Linked DNA regions of Homo sapiens. The protein of the gene in region 3 purifies or fractionates together with the protein of the main gene of each other region. This does not show direct contact. Each region holds a gene or a part of one and is shown on either strand. Other genes may lie near its edges.

The links. The genes of interacting proteins can lie anywhere in the genome.
Region 1: the proteins of QSOX2 (region 3) and C2CD5 purify together in Homo sapiens (affinity purification with mass spectrometry; one large-scale study listed by BioGRID and IntAct). This does not show direct contact.
Region 2: the proteins of QSOX2 (region 3) and SYT11 fractionate together in Homo sapiens (co-fractionation; one large-scale study listed by BioGRID). This does not show direct contact.
Region 4: the proteins of QSOX2 (region 3) and CELA3A purify together in Homo sapiens (co-immunoprecipitation; one large-scale study listed by IntAct). This does not show direct contact.

What each region holds. Positions count from the first base shown.
Region 1 is NC_000012.12:22,520,543-22,524,244, forward strand, and holds part of C2CD5 (C2 domain-containing protein 5), read right to left. Parts: intron 3,083-3,702; coding exon 2,884-3,082; intron 1-2,883. UniProt on the Homo sapiens protein: Required for insulin-stimulated glucose transport and glucose transporter SLC2A4/GLUT4 translocation from intracellular glucose storage vesicle (GSV) to the plasma membrane (PM) in adipocytes.
Region 2 is NC_000001.11:155,879,865-155,883,566, reverse strand, and holds part of SYT11 (synaptotagmin-11), read right to left. Parts: intron 3,068-3,702; coding exon 2,944-3,067; intron 2,379-2,943; coding exon of another isoform or gene 2,370-2,378; coding exon 2,059-2,369; 3' UTR 1-2,058. UniProt on the Homo sapiens protein: Synaptotagmin family member involved in vesicular and membrane trafficking which does not bind Ca(2+). Inhibits clathrin-mediated and bulk endocytosis, functions to ensure precision in vesicle retrieval.
Region 3 is NC_000009.12:136,242,924-136,247,389, forward strand, and holds the start of QSOX2 (sulfhydryl oxidase 2 precursor), read right to left. Parts: upstream 2,890-4,466; 5' UTR 2,881-2,889; coding exon 2,553-2,880; intron 1-2,552. UniProt on the Homo sapiens protein: Catalyzes the oxidation of sulfhydryl groups in peptide and protein thiols to disulfides with the reduction of oxygen to hydrogen peroxide. May contribute to disulfide bond formation in a variety of secreted proteins.
Region 4 is NC_000001.11:22,007,955-22,011,656, reverse strand, and holds part of CELA3A (chymotrypsin-like elastase family member 3A preproprotein), read right to left. Parts: intron 1,953-3,702; coding exon 1,800-1,952; intron 1-1,799. UniProt on the Homo sapiens protein: Efficient protease with alanine specificity but only little elastolytic activity.

The DNA of each region.
Region 1 (3,702 bases), on a different chromosome or scaffold from region 3:
TTGGTGATCTACTTTTACACCAAAAAATGAGTAAGGTTTTGTTTTTGTTTTTATTTCTCCACTGAAGTGAGAAAAAGTATAAGAATTCTCAAAAAGAATTAAAAAATCCAAGACTTAAAAATAAACAATGCTATATTTATTATAATCAGTAGTATACACAGGAGAATTTGTCTCGTAGTACTTTTTTTAAGTAAAGAAGCAATAACTCATACTTAAAAGCACTTTCTATTGTCAAGAGAGTTAAGCTGGAAAACACCAAAGGGATTTATAGTGTGCATGACACTAAACATCAAAAAGAAAAAAACTTAGGAAGTAGAACACACCATTAATGTAGGTAAAATAAAATGAAAAAACTAAAATGAACAGTGTAAAATGTTCAAACTATGGCATCAAATTAAAATTCAAATACACTGGAACATCACCATAATGTACTCTTGGAGTTTTCTGATTCGATCAGTCTCTCTGCATGAAAGGATGCCTCATAATAACCTGTGGTATTTATAATATTAATATTCCTTTCCAGTCAGTCAATAACATAATCTAAACCACCTTTTATCAAATTCCTGTCTAGAATCAACAATATTACATAATTAAATACCAGAATAGTTATAATCAGCTGAATCATAAAATAGGCTTTGAAATAGAACCCAAATTGCTTCATTCTCAAAAAATACAATGAAGCCAGTTGAAATAAAACAGCCTGAGTATTGAGGGTTTTTAAAAAATAACTTGACTTAATTAGTAAGATGCCTTTTAGAAAATCCTAAGGAAGGAACTTACGTCCATCATGAGGCTACAACAAGATTAGAAAAGGAGAAAACGTATACAATCCCAGAAGATTTACACTAATAGAACTCTTCCTGAATGCATGCAAAACATATCCCCTTGCTCTCTGTATTTCATTCTAAGGAACCAACAGGTAATATAGCTTTGTCATTCTCCTTCCACTAGGTAACTTACTTAAATTTGCTTAAACTTGCACTTTAATTTGCTAGTAAATATTTACTTAAATTTGCTACAGAGAGAGGGAAAAAAATCTGAATACCTCAAAAAGCTAAACCTGCAATCTGACTCTACTGCTGGCAGCTGGCAATTCTTATCTTTCTAGGAGATATTTTAAATGGAATATAAAGCAAATTCATTCTTCGATTTATTTAAAACAATTATTTCATTTGCCAATGTGTTTCCAAATAAAATTAAGCAGTATGTAACACTGTGCTTCCTCTTATGAATAAAATTCAACCCAAATGACTAATGGCCAGCAGAAATAAAATGGCTAACAAAAAGAATGCACTTAGGATAAAGATGAAAATTTCACTTTAAAAAAGATGGTGAAAAAACATGTTTTTTCATACTATGATACCTTTCTATTCAACCCCTCCTGACTACTGAACTGGGAAACATTTTAGGTTTCCTGACTATACAACTCTGACTCCCTGATTATCTAGGACAGGAGTCCACAAACTACAGACTGCAGTCCGAATCTGTCCTACCATCTGTTTTGTAAGTAAGTTTTATTTGAACACAGTCACACTGTATTCACTTGCATACTGTTTATGTTTGCTTTTGTGCTACAATGGCAGTTATGAAGTAGCATCAGCAAAAACTAAATCATTTACCTGTACCATTTGGTCATTCACAGAAAAAGTTTGCCAACCCTTGACTTAGAAGAATCTCTAGATGAGTGGTCTTCAACCGAAGTACTAAAGGCATTTAGGATGAAACAAGTCTTCATTGTATAGGGTTGTCCCTTGCTGTGCGGGATAGTCAGCGTTTTTAGTCCCCAACAGGACCTAGCACCCTAATCATTATGACTGAAAAATCTTGTTCCAAACACTCTGTGATGACAGTCATGACCACCATCATGTTGAAAATCTCTGCCTCTGACACAATGATGACACACACAGGCCAAATCAAGCCAACAGAAGTGTTTTGCAGGATCACACATAGATTTTCTAAAATGCATGACTCTAAATTTCTTTAGAATAGGGATCAGCAAACTCCTTTTTTTGTAAATAAAGACAAGAGATTGTATGGGCAGACCCTAAAGTATTGGCCTTTCCCAGAAAAAGTTTGCCAACCTTGGCTTTACAAGCAGCAGTATACTCTATTTAATTACACTCAGTTAGTTTATTCATATAAACTCCCTGGCCTCTAGACATTTGAGTTTAACACTTCTGCACAAATCAATTTTTCCTGCTTTATATACTATGTGGCCATTAATAAGTATAATTGGATTATCTGGTAGAGGGTTTTAAGTATTCCTCAGAAAATAAAATGCCACACAATGCTTGAATATTCATTTTATGCTTTATATATGCAGTGTCTAAATATCTGGAATAAGTTTAATTTTATATTACTTAATTTGTTTCATATTAAGATGGCATAGGCAGGGCACAGTGGCTCACACCTGTAAATCCCAGCATTTTGGGAGGTCAAGGCAGGTAGATCACTTGAGCCCAGGAGTTTGAGACCAGGCTAGGCAACATGACAAAACCCCATCTCTACTAAAAATACAAAAGTTAGCTGGGCGTGGTGGCCTGCCCCTGTAGTCCCAGCTACTCAGGCGGCTGAGGTGGGAGGATCACCTGAGCCTAGAAGGTCAAGGCTGCAGTGAGCCAAGACTGTGCCACTGAACTCCAGCCTGGGCAACAGAGCAAGACCCTGTCACAAAAAATAAAAATAAAAATAAATAAGACGGTATAAATAAAATATTAGGAATATTTAAATATTTTTAAGTTTTAAATTTTGACAGTCATCACCAATAAAAATCATCACAGAGAAAATGTTGAACAACCCTACTAAAATGTTTCAAATCAAATGAAAAAGCATAGATAAAAGATAAAAATCTTAGCAAGAACAATTTCATTGATTCATACTTACTCCTTCATTTCTTTGGATGGGGAATTACATGCAGGAAGGAATGCTGCTGGGCTACTTAATTTATCCAGAGTACACGCCGTTCCTATGGCTCGCACCACTAACCCAGACTCGCCCTCCAGATCGAAACACTGTAAGTACCCCACAACTGCATTTCCTCTCATTTCAAGTACTTTCAAGCCAATCTTCCTCTGCAGCTCACCTACAAAACATGGGAAATCTCATTCTTGCTTTGTAGCTTTACATTACATACTATAAGACTGGACATGGTAGTGGTAAAAAAAAAAAAAAAGACCAAGAAAATCACAGATTTTCAGAACTTGAAGGAAACTTAAAAGATAATCTGGTTTAGCCTCTACAGAATACAGAACATAATTCTATTACAATATAGCATAATTATAAAATATAATATATACTTATACAGCACAAATATATAGAATAAAAACAAATATATTTGCTATATAAATATAACATTGATACTTTGTGTGAAATACATGTATGAATATATATTCACACATATACACATATAACTCTTAATATAAATGTAAATTTTAAATAAAACAGTAAACAAGTTTTTCAAAGAAAAATTTAAAAAGGGAATGAGGTCAGAGTGGCAGGGAAAGTGGTCAAAAGGATAGAGGGAACTACAGTACCTAGGGAGGAACTGTGAAAAGGCAACATCTGAACAGAAAGTATGAGAGACAGAAGAAGGTGATTTGCTTAAGCTCTGACAAATAAATGGTAGATGAAGGAAAACTAGAATCCAGGTTCCCACTCAGGGTTCCTTCCTGAACGCCCCTTGCTCAGCGCTCTTTCCACTAC
Region 2 (3,702 bases), on a different chromosome or scaffold from region 3:
AGTTTATTTTAATTAATTAATTAATTAATTTTTGAGACAGGATCTCACTCTGTTACCCAGCCCAGAGTGCAGTGGCATGATCATGGCTCACTGCAGCCTCTACCTCTGGGCTCAAATGATCCTCCCACCTCAGCCTCCTGAATAGCTGGGACCACAGGCGTGCAGCACCACACCTAGTTAATTTTTTGTATTTTTGATAGAGATGGAGTTTCGTCATGTAGCCCAGGCTGGTCTTGAACTCCTGGGCTCAAGCGATCTTTCCACCTCGGCCTCCCAAAATACTGGGATTACAGGCGTGAGCCACTGCGCCCGGCCCCAAGTTTACCTATTATCCATGGAGTCTGTGCCATCTGCAAAGTCTCAACGTTGGAGACACAGCTGCTGTAGGAGTAAAGAGACTTGAATTCTAATCCCAGAAAGATGCTGAATCTCTCTCAACCTCTATTGCCCATTGGTAGAAGAAGAATTGCATCCTGTAGTTCCTCCATCCCTCCACCATGTGGTAAGACATAAATTCCAAGAATTATGCAGCTCGTTTTGAGGAAAAGAATGCTCTGAAAGAATCCAACTTATCTTCATTCACTCAGTCACACTGTTATTTTTTTAAGAGCTAAATTTTTATTGAAAAATTTAAGGAGAACTTCTGAGGGCCCCTGTTTTATGAAGCAAAGCTAACCTCATTACAACATCTAAGCTATTTGAGAAGACTCTAAAGCATCTCCATGGTCGGCATTTCCAGAAAAACAAAGGCCAGTGTAATTCTTCAAACCTCTGATGACTTCCAACCCATCAACCAAGAAATGGCTGTCACTACAGTAGATAGCTGCAAAGGGGAATGGCTGTCGTCACTTGTCTCCTCTCCTTGTCCTTATACCTGAAAACAGCTTTTGGGATCAGCTGGATGTGTTCATTGGTACTATCCTATAGCTGAATTTGAAGTTTCCAAAGCTCCTTTTAGAGAAGTCATCAAGTTTGATAAAATCCAAGTTCTGATGTCTTGGATGCATAAGTCTGATGTATTCTCTGTGCTTCAGTTAGGTCTGTCAGTTAATTATAGACTGCCTTTTACTACTTCATAGCAGAAGAGCTGATAGCAAAAATACCCCATTTCTCAATTCCTCTTTCTCCTGCAAACCTTGCCTCATCCACCCCACCTTTGTTTCTTGGCTTACTGCAGACCTCTAGACCTTGAGGTCAAAGAGCAGAGATATAAGAGGCAATAAAAAGAAAAGATGGGAATGATGAAAACATGAGGTTTTATAAGAGCAAAATTTTCTTCTGCAGAGGTGGGGAGTGGGAGAAATTCTCCAGAGAAGCCCAATAAAAAGAAGCCAATTTCAGGTAATCAGCAAATACAATTCAGCACAAAACACAATTTCCATGGATTAAAATCTGCAACTTGATATTGGCAGTTAGGCTAATTTCTTCAGTTTGTATTAGACATGCAAGTATATGGTTACATTGTTATATATAGATTTATAGGGGTCTTTCCCTCTCTTTTGTCCCCCATTAAAAAAAAAAAACAAAACAAAACCAGAGGCCGGGCACGGTGGCTCGCACCTGTAATCCCAGCACTTTGGGAGGCCGAGGCGGGTGGATCACCTGAGGTCTGGAATTCGAGACCAGCCTGGCCAACATGGTGAAACCCATCTCTACTGAAAATACAAAAAATTAGCCGGGCATGCTCGTGGGTGCCTGTAATCCCAGCTACTTGGGAGGCTGAGGGAGGAGAATCACTTGAACCTGGAGGGCAGAGGTTGCAGTGAGTTGAGATCTCACCATTGCACTCCAGCCCGGGCAACAAGAGCGAAACTCCACCTCAAAAAAAATAAAGTAAAATAAAAGATTCTAGCGCCTTGCAAAGCAGAAAAAAAAACATCATTGCTAAGAACTGATCTGCAGCTGTGGTCATATAGGGTGTTCTTTGTGGAATTTGTTTTGTAAGAAATTTTCTTCTACAACTAAAATGAGGTTTGGAGTCCACTTCTCTGTCATCTTTTTCCCCTCCACATCCCTCCCCAGCTTGGCCCCCGGGGATTAGAGGAGAGAAGAACAGGATTAGTACTCGCTCAGACTGTGCCACTTGGCCACAGGCTTGCGGGGGCTCTCGCAGACCTCTCTCCAGTGTTCAGCACCACTGGCTGTGACACTGTGTGCCCCCAGGATCAGCCTCCCCACCACCTCATTCTTGGTGGTGCGATCGAAGTCGATAACGAGGAACTCGATGCTGATATCAGGCAGGAGGTCAGTGGGGATGTCGTAGATGAAAGATTCATTGAAGATGGGGTTCAAAGTGCACTTCTTCACATGGGTTTTCTTCTTGGCAATGCGCTTTCTGCCGTAGTAGACGTTCACCTTGACATAAGGATCTGGGGCCCCCAAAGAGATAAGAAAAAGGGAGACAGACCTATGACACAGTCCTCTCCTATGTAATGGTAATTTCATGTTGGGAAAGGGGGGGCTCTGTTGTTCGTATCTTTGATGGCCATCCCATGTGTTCTTTAGTGATTGCACAATAAACACACACTGACTATATGTGAGTCTGCCTGCCTGGATGAGGGGCCAAGGAAACCAAGCAGGAATAGAACAGAACAACTTTCTCAGGTTAGGTCTGAAGAAATCCCATGATACCAAGAAGTATATTAAAGGGCACAGAGACAAATGCCTGCAGCCTTTTTGAGAAGTCTCTCTTAGCACCTGGCATGAATATTATTTAGGATACCTTGCCAAATGTAAAGACCCCATTTGTTCAACTGAAGAATCTTCCTAGCCAGGGAAATCTATTGGACGTAGATACTCATCAGGAAGAGAATGTCTACAGAAAGAGGAGCAGATTAAAAGTGAAAGAGGCAAGGATCTTGAAGTGTGGAGGTCTATCTGGGCCACAGGCAAGGAGTCGGGGATGGTTCAGACAGTAAGAAATAGGTTGAAGTAAATAGCTGCTACCTGAGAGACCGGTGATATCCATCTTCGGCAAGTGTCTGGCTTTGAGGACCACCACTGTCATTCTCTGTGCCACAGGCTGATATGACAGAGACACCTGGAGCTCCCCTCTGCTGATGCACTTCTGTGAGGAAAAAATGGCAGGTGAGAATCCTGGCAGAGGGTGCAGGGCAGAGCACAAAAAGTGTGCAGAGCAGTGGGAAGAGTCTGGGGGAGGACAAGTGCAGGGATGATAAGTTTTTTGGAAAGATGCTCATCCCCTGGAAAGGTGTTATGATTTTATTTAACAAGGAGGGAGAAAGGAAACATTATAACCATAATTCTGATATTAAATAATTTGCATGGAGAGCCCACATAGCCTTGGATTTATGAGCATGACCTCTGGAGCCAGATTAGCCTGGATTCAAATCCTGACTATTTCTCTTTTTTTTTGAGACAGGTTCTCACTCTGTTGCCCAGATTGGAATTCAGTGACGTGATCTTGGCTCACTGCAGCCTCCATCTCCTGGACTCTAGCAATCCTCCCACCTCAGCCTCCTGAGTAGCTAGGACTACAGGTGTGTGCCACCACATCTGGCTAATTTTTCTTTTTTCTATACACAGAGTCTCACTGTGTAGCCCAGGCTGGTCTTGAATTCCTGGTCTCAAGTGATCCTCCCGCCTCAGCCTCCCAAAATGCTGGGATTACAGGCATAAGCCACCATGCCCAGTTGCTATTTCTTATCTGTGACCTTGGACAAGTTACTCAACATCTCTGTA
Region 3 (4,466 bases):
TGAACCCCCTCTTGGCCAAGGAGACCCCAGGGCAACCTGAGGAAAGAAATTCCAGGCCCTGACGGCAAGGGAGGTCAGACACGCCTGGTTACATCACCTCCCTTTGGAGTTTAGGCAGAGCTGACCAGCGTGATGAAACAGAGATCACAGACAGACAGCACAGCCTCAGCAGCAACGACACCAAACTCCAGCCTGACTCGGGTACAGCACCACATGACAAATAGCACACCCTGCAGGAAATCAAAATATTTCACCCCCAAATACATTTATTTCCCTGACATATTTGAAATGGTCCTGCAAAGCTGTCTTTTGTGAGGGAAATTTGCATCTGTAGAGAATCTCCCTCCCTTTCTAGGTCTTTCCTGGATCTAGGAGACATTTAACGAGTCTGACAGCATTCAGGTCTGAAAAGAGACATTTACCCTCTATTCTCCCCAAGGCTGCTGCCTGTGAGGCTTCATCTACTTAACCTTGGCCTCCACAGCCCCTTTAGCTTAACTCAAGCATTTCTCTTTGCTGACTTCAAGTCTTTAGACAAAGCTTAACTCTTTCAATCAATTGCCAGTCAGAATCCACCTATGATCTGTAAACCTACCCCTTCCTATACCTTACATGTACTGATTTATGTCTCTCTGCCTATAACTTCTGTCTCCCTAAAATGTATAAAATCAAATTAACGTGACTGCCTAGAGCACACTTTCTTAGGACCTCTTGACACTGTTCCCCTGGCCATGGCCACTACACTTATTGGCTCAGAACAAACCTCTTTCAGTATTTTATAGTTTGGCTTTTTAGCCAACAGGACCCTCTGCCTGGGCTCCCTGAAGCCCTCTCCCTGCTGCCTGGTCAGGTCACCGCTGTCTTTCACTTTCAGCCATATCCTCCTCCAGTCTCAGTCTCAGGCACAAGCCTGTTCTTCCTGTCGTGACTGGGAAGACAGTCAGCCTCACTAAAGGAGGCTTACTGAGTTGAGTTCATCACACCACTGGGTATGGACGTTACTGTGTGGCTCTCAGGAGGGGCCTTCCTTCTGAGCTCCAGGGACAGTTCTCAAGGCTGCCTATGTGCTGCTTCGGTTACAGAATTTGCAATATTTGAATCTGGTACGATCTTTAGACTTCAGCGACTCAACTGAAAAAAAAAAATCAAAACCAAAACCCACAAAAAAAGTGACCAAGTCCTGCCAGGGCCACCTGCATTTTAATGAACATATCTGTTTCTGCCACTGAATAACACACAAGAACTGAAGGGTTCCCTACGTGATTGAATTACTTGTTTGTTTTCCTAAAAGCAGTGTCTAAAAACCCCACTGAACAGTTTTTCTGTCCATCTCTTCCAGTCTCTGACCTCAGTTCTGAGTCAGGTCAACAGGGACATAAGAAAACATGAGATCAAAGAGGAGGAATCCATTAGAATCAAAAGGCCCCAGCTCTCTAAGAGGAGAATGCATTTTAAAGATAACCATTTACAGTAACATACAAAAGCCCTACTTAGACTTGAAAAAAAGTTTCTTTACAAATCTGTTTGCGATGAGAAAAATACAGCAGGATTGGGTGTAAGGCATAAAAACAAAGGTGCAGGAAGAAAGAGTAGCAATTTGTTACAGATCTTGCCCACTGAAACATGTAATTTGAGGTTAGCACAACACAGGAAGTCCTGCCAAACCTCACTGGGTCGGGAGGACCTCCTACTTCAGTGATTTAAATACCATTTTAAGGGAAGGGTGTTGTGAATGCCCCCTCCCACGCCAACTCTAACCTGTAGAGCAGGCGAGTAACTTCGTGACTGGTTAACAACGTGCGACCAGATGAAAGCACTAAACAATAAAGTGCGGAACACTACCAGCAGTTTGGTGAAAGATTTCTCAAAGGCTGTGCATCTGTGATCAAGGAGCCCACCAATGAAATTCTTTGTAGAGTTAAAAAAATTGCTTTATAGGTTGTTTTGGGGTATTATAGAGAAGTCTCCAGAGTATTTGGACTTCTAAGTTGTGGGTTCACTTTGAGCACCCACTATATGGCCAGCGATCCGAACCAGAAAGTTAATGATGAAGGTTCAAAGGGAATGGGGTGGCTACGAGTGTGGAATAGGAATGAGGGATCCTCAGAGAACAGGAATTCTGGGCACTGGGGATGGGGTGTGTGGACGCTAGGAAACAGGTAGGGTAGGAGGCCTGGAAGGTCAATGAAGTTCTTGGGGCTCAAAACATAGGTATTTTGAGAGCTGGGATACGGGAGGGCTTCCCTATCCCCAAGCGTGCGGTGAGGGCTGCGGGAGAATGGTTTCATTTTGACTTCAGACAGCCCAACTCGTCAGGATCTAACGGGGATTAACTGGGAGAGACATGGGGAGCAGCTGGCTTAGTCTCCCGCCCCTGGAAAGGCCAGGGTTGGTCCGAGTCGGGTGCCTCTGTGGGGCAGGGACTGGCTCTGCGGTAAGGAAAGAAATACGGGGGAGGGGCCCCGGGACCCGCCTTCTGGGGCGGTCGCAAGGGGTCCCGGAAGGCCGCGGTCCCGGGGGTCGGGGGGTCCCCGCGCGGGGGCGCGCCTCACCTCGCACATCCCCAGCCAGGGCCCGCCAAGTGGGCGCGTAGCCGATGCAGTGGCCACACCACGACGAGTAGAACTGCACGAGCCACGCGGCCGAGCTGTTGGCGGTGGCCCCGCGCACGCTGCCGCTGTCCAGCACCCACACGGCGTCCTCGCCCGCGCGGTACAGCCGCGCCGCACCGCCCGCGCCCGGCCCCACCGCCGCCGCCGCTAGCAGCACTAGCAGCCGCGGCAGCCGTGCGGCCCGCGGCGGGGGCGAGCGCCGGGCTCTCAGCGCAGGTCCCGCTCCGATTCCCGGGCTGCGCGCCACCGCCGCCCCGGCCGCCGCCATGTTGGAAGTGCCGCCGGCGCGCTGAACTTTCACCCTGGCAACCACCGTCACGTGCGCCGGCGCGCCCGGCCCCGCCCCCGCGCGCCCAGTTCTGTTCCGCCCCGCCCCCTCACGTCTGACCCCGCCCTCTCTCCCCGCCCCCGCCCCCGCCCATGCGTGGCAGCCCCGCCCCCAAGAGTCTGATGACGCCATCTCCCCGCCCAGGCGCGGCAGGCTCCGCCCAGGCCCCGCCCCACCCCGCCGCGCGTTCCCCAAACCCCTTCCCTGAACAGGGCCAGGTGGCCACATTTAGCAAATGGAAGTGCACGACGCCAGGTTCAACGTGAATTTCAGACAAACAGTGAGTCGGTTTTTCAGCCTAGGTCTGTGCCATGCCTGAAATACAAATTTAACAAGACATTCTTAGACGTAAAAAACTATTCCGGGGTTCTTTTACTTGGCAACCCCACCTGGGGCTTCAGAGGGTCTGCAAGCCAGCCTCGACTTTTTAATATGATATTGGAACGCTTAGAAAATGCAGCAAAACATCCACTCAAAGTCAGATGTGTTGTGTGCTACCTTTTAGGATGTTCCAGTCGAATGCAGCTTCACGGTTTGGAAATGAAATCATATGACTTTTTTGCTTCATTGAACAGGATACCTGATTTTTTTTTTTGTTCCTATTCCTAATTTTTACACATGTCAAGATTTTCTCTGAACTGTGTGACCAAAACAAAACAAGGGAGTGGGCGAGCCTGGGCAACATAGCGAGAGCCCATCTCTTAAAAAAAAGAAAAAAGCCGGGCATGGTGGTGCACACCTGTAGTCCCAGCTACTTGAGGGGCTAAGGTGGAGGATGGCTTGAGCCTGGGAGCTTGAGGCTGCAGTGAGCCGTGACTCTGCCACTGCACTCCAGCCTGGATGACAGAGCGAGACCTTGTCTCAAAATAAATAGATAACTGTATTGTGGGGTTCTGTGTAAGATTTTGTTTAAAAGGTTTTGCTGCTAACAATGGTTAACCCCAGATGAGAGGATTCTCCCCAGAGGGCCCCTGGCCAAGGCGTCTGCTCCCTTTTCCTCACGTCCTGCGTCTCCCTGTTCATGTTTCCTTCCATCACCCACGTTTCCTGGCTTCTGCTCTGTGCCAAGCCCTGGAGACAAATCAAGAACAAAACCGAGCCCCCAGTGTCCCTGGCCTGCATTTGGGCAGACCCCAAACAAACCAACGCGTAAAGCAGCCACCGCGTGCTATGAAAAGCAATGAAGCCGGACACGGAAGCAGGTGCCAGCAGGGCTGCCGTACAGAGGAGGGTGGGGAGGTCTTTGAGAAGGTGACCCGAATGGAGAAGGAGGTGAGGGAGGAGGCACACATGCAAAGGCCCTGGGGCAGAAGGGTGCTGAGCACGCTGGAGGAACAGCAAGGAGCCGGACCTGGTGGGAGCGGAGCAAGCTGGGGGAAGCGTGGGAGGGAAGAAAAGCTGAGAGCCCGAGCGAGACCCAGGGGGCCTCACAACCTGGGCCGCAGACTCAGACTTTGATGCTGAATGGGGGGGTGGCCACGGAAGGATCGGTGCAAGGATGCAGCTCTGCCCTTCTAGTTGCAGAG
Region 4 (3,702 bases), on a different chromosome or scaffold from region 3:
TCCCAAGTAGCTGAGATTACAGCGACGCACTACCACGCCTGGCCAATTTTTTTATATTTTTGTAGAGACAGGGTTTCACCATATTGGCCAGGCTGGTCTCGAACTCCTGACCTTGTGATCCACCTGCCTTGGCCTACCAAAGTGCTTGGATTACAGGCATGAGCCACCGTGCCTGGCCTTATATATATATTTTTTTAACATGGGTCAGGGAACCAAGGGATTAAATGGTCTATAAATCATCACTGTTTTTTTGTTTGTTTGTTTGTTTTTGTTTTTGAGATGGAGTCTTGCTCTGTCACCCAGGCTGGAGTGCAGTGGCGTAATCTCGGCTCACTGCAACCTCCGCCTCCCAGATTCAAGCAGTTCTCCTGCCTCAGCCTCCTGAGTAGCTGGGACCACAGGCATGCACCAATACGCCCGGCTAATTTTTTGTATTCTTAGTAGAGATGGGGTTTCACCATGTCGGCCAGGCTGGTCTTGAACTCCTGACCTCAGGTGATCCATGGGCCTTGGCCTCCCAGAGTGCTGGGATTACAGGCATGAACCACTGCACTCGACCAGAAATGTTTTTTTATTGGAAGGCTTCATGACTTTGCATGTCATCCTTGCGCAGGGGCCGTGCTAATCTCTATATCATTCCAATTTTAGTACATGTGCTGCCAAAGCAAGCACTACTGTTTTATTTTATTTAGTTTATTTTCATTTTTTTAAGAGAGAGGCTCTTGCTGTGTTGCCCAGGCTGGAGTACAGTGGCTATTCACAGGTGTGATCCTACTACTTTTCAGCATGTGAGTTTTGACCTGCTCTGTTTCTGACCTGGGACAGTTCACCCCTCCTTAGGCCACCTGGTGGTCCCCACTCCCAGGAGGTCACCACATTGATGCCAAACTTGGTGCAGAACCTGATGGGTATAGCGCACTATGGCCCAGAACTCCAGGGCTCAACCGATCCTCCTGCCTCAGCCTCCCAAGTAGCTGGGACTACAGGTGGGCATCACTGCACCCAGCTAGCTATTACTCTTTTTTTTTTTTTTTTTTTTTTGAGACGGAGTCTCGCTCTGTCACCCAGGCTGCAGTGCAGTGGTATGATCTCGACTAACTGCAACCTCCACCTCCCAGGTTCAAGCAATTCTCTGCCTGAGCCTCCCAAGCAGCTGGGATTACAGGCACCCACCACCATGCCCGGCTAATTTTTGTATTTTTAGTAGAGACAGGGTTTCACCATCTTGGCCAGGCTGGTCTTGAACTCCTAACCTCGTGATCCACCTGCCTCTGCTTCCCAAAGTGCTGGGATTACAGGCATGACTATGCCATGCCCAGCTATTACTCTCTTTTTTTTTGTTGTTTAGCTATTACTGTTACCATGAGCGTTATTAGTCCTCTCTGATCACCCATCCCCAGATGAAGTCTGGGGCCTGGACTCCCCTCTCTCGGCTCTCATCAGACTGCATCGTTCTCATTCATGTAATCACCTGTCCCCCACCAGGCAGCCTCTTGTCTGGCATGTCTCTCTATCCTCCCTGACAAGAGAGGACAAGACCAGAGGAGATACTTTATAAATACTTGTTGAAATAAGGAAGTTCAGCTGTAGTTCCAAGCACCACCCAGAAGCCATCAAGTTCCTGGGGTCACACTGTATCAGAAAACATCCCCAAGCCTTTCTGGAATGTCCCCAAGGGCCCTTCCCCACTGAGCTTCTAGGATCCTTTCAGGCCCTCCCCAGGATCCGATGTTTCTCACCTGTCACCTCTCAGAAGAGCCACCACCCTAAAGCCCTCCGGGCCGCCCTGCCCTCCTCACCTCCTCAATCCAGTCGATGAAGGCGGAGACTCGAGTGAACACCGTGGGCTTCCAGATGAAGTTGCAGCCAAAGGCAGAAACAAAGCTGGTCACACCGTGGACCTGCCAGCCACCATCCTCTGTGGGGCAGTTGAGGGGTCCTCCAGAGTCACCCTGGAACCGTCAGAGAGGAGTGGGTGGCTGAGCCATGTCTGAGGTTTACGGAACTGGTTCTGAATTCTAGGGATTTCAAGAAACTCTGACATTACTTGACACCTCTGAGCCTTAGCTCGCTCATTTTTTTATCATTTATTATTTTTATTTTTTTAGATGGAGTCTCGCTCTGCTGTCCAGGCTGGAGTGCAGTGGCGCAAGCTTGGCTCATTGCAACCTCCGTCTCCCGGCTCCCAGGTTCAAGTGATTCTCCTGCTTCAGCCTCCCAAGTAGCTGGGATTACAGGCACCTGCCACCACACCCGGCTAATTTTTGTTTATTTATTTATTTATTTTTTATTAGAGACGAAGTCTCACTCTGACGCCCAGGCTGGAGTACAGTGGCAGGATCTCAGCTCACTGCAAGCTCTGCCTCCAGGGTTCACGCCATTCTCCTGCCTCAGCCTCCCAAGTAGCTGGGACTATAGGTGCCCACTACCACGCCCGGCTAATTTTTGTATTTTTCGTAGAGACGGGGTTTCACCGTGTTAGCCAGGATGGTCTCGATCTCCTGACCACGTGATCCGCCCGCCTCAGCCTCCCGAAGTGCTGGGATTACAGGCGTGAGTCACTGCACCCAGCCATATTTAATAGAGATGGGATTTCACCATGTTGGCCAGGTTAGTCTCAAAGTCCTGACCTCAGGTGATCCACCTGCCGGGGCCTCCCAAAGGGATTATAGGTGTGAGCCACCACGCCCAGCCAGCTGACTCATTTGTGATAGGGAATAGTAGTATCTGTCCAAGAGCCTAGGGAATTACATGAGATGATGCACGATCTTAGCACGATATCCAGTAGAGAAGAAGCACTCGATAAACATAGTTCTTATTAGTGGCACCATAGTTAATTATTAATTCATACTCAATTACAATACAATGAGGGTATTTGATAGTATTTTTTTTTTTTCTGAGTCAGCGTCTCGCTCTGTCACCCAGGTTGGAGTGCAGTGGCGCGATCTCGGCTCACGGCAAGCTCCAACTCCTGGGTTCACACCATTCTCCTGCCTCAGCCTCCCGAGTAGCTGGGACTACAGGCGCCCACCACCACACCCGGCTAACTTTTTGTGTGTTTAGTAGAGACGAGGTTTCACCATGTTAGCCAGGATGATCTCGATCTCCTGACCTCGTGATCCGCCCGGCTCGGCCTCCCAAAGTGCTGGGATTACAGGCGTGAGCCACCGCGCCCAGCCTTTGTTTTTTTTTCTTAGACAAGGTCTTGGCCAGGAAAGTGGCTCACATCTGTAAACATAACACTTTGGAAGGCCAAGGCAGGAGGATTACTTGAGCCCAAGAGTTAGAGACCAGCCTGGGCAACATGGTGAGACCTCATCTCTACAAAAAATTTAAAAATTAGCTAGGCATTGTGGCACACACTTGTACTCCTGGCTGCTTGGGAGGCTGACATTGGAGGGTTGCTTGAGCCCAGGAGGGCAAGGCTACAGTGGGCTATGATGGCATTACTGCACTCCAGCCTGGGCAACAGAGCAAGATCCTGTCTCAAAAAAAAAAAAAAAAGAGACAACGTCTTGCTGTGTCGCCAGGCTTGGGTGCAGTGGCAAAAATCATAGCCACTGTGAGCTTGAACTCCCAGGCTCAAACAATCCTCCCACCTCAGCCTATCAAGTAGTTGGGACTACAGGCGAGTGCCACCATGCCTGACTAAGTAAAAAAAGTTTTTCTGTAGATGGGCATCTCACTATATTACCTAGGCTG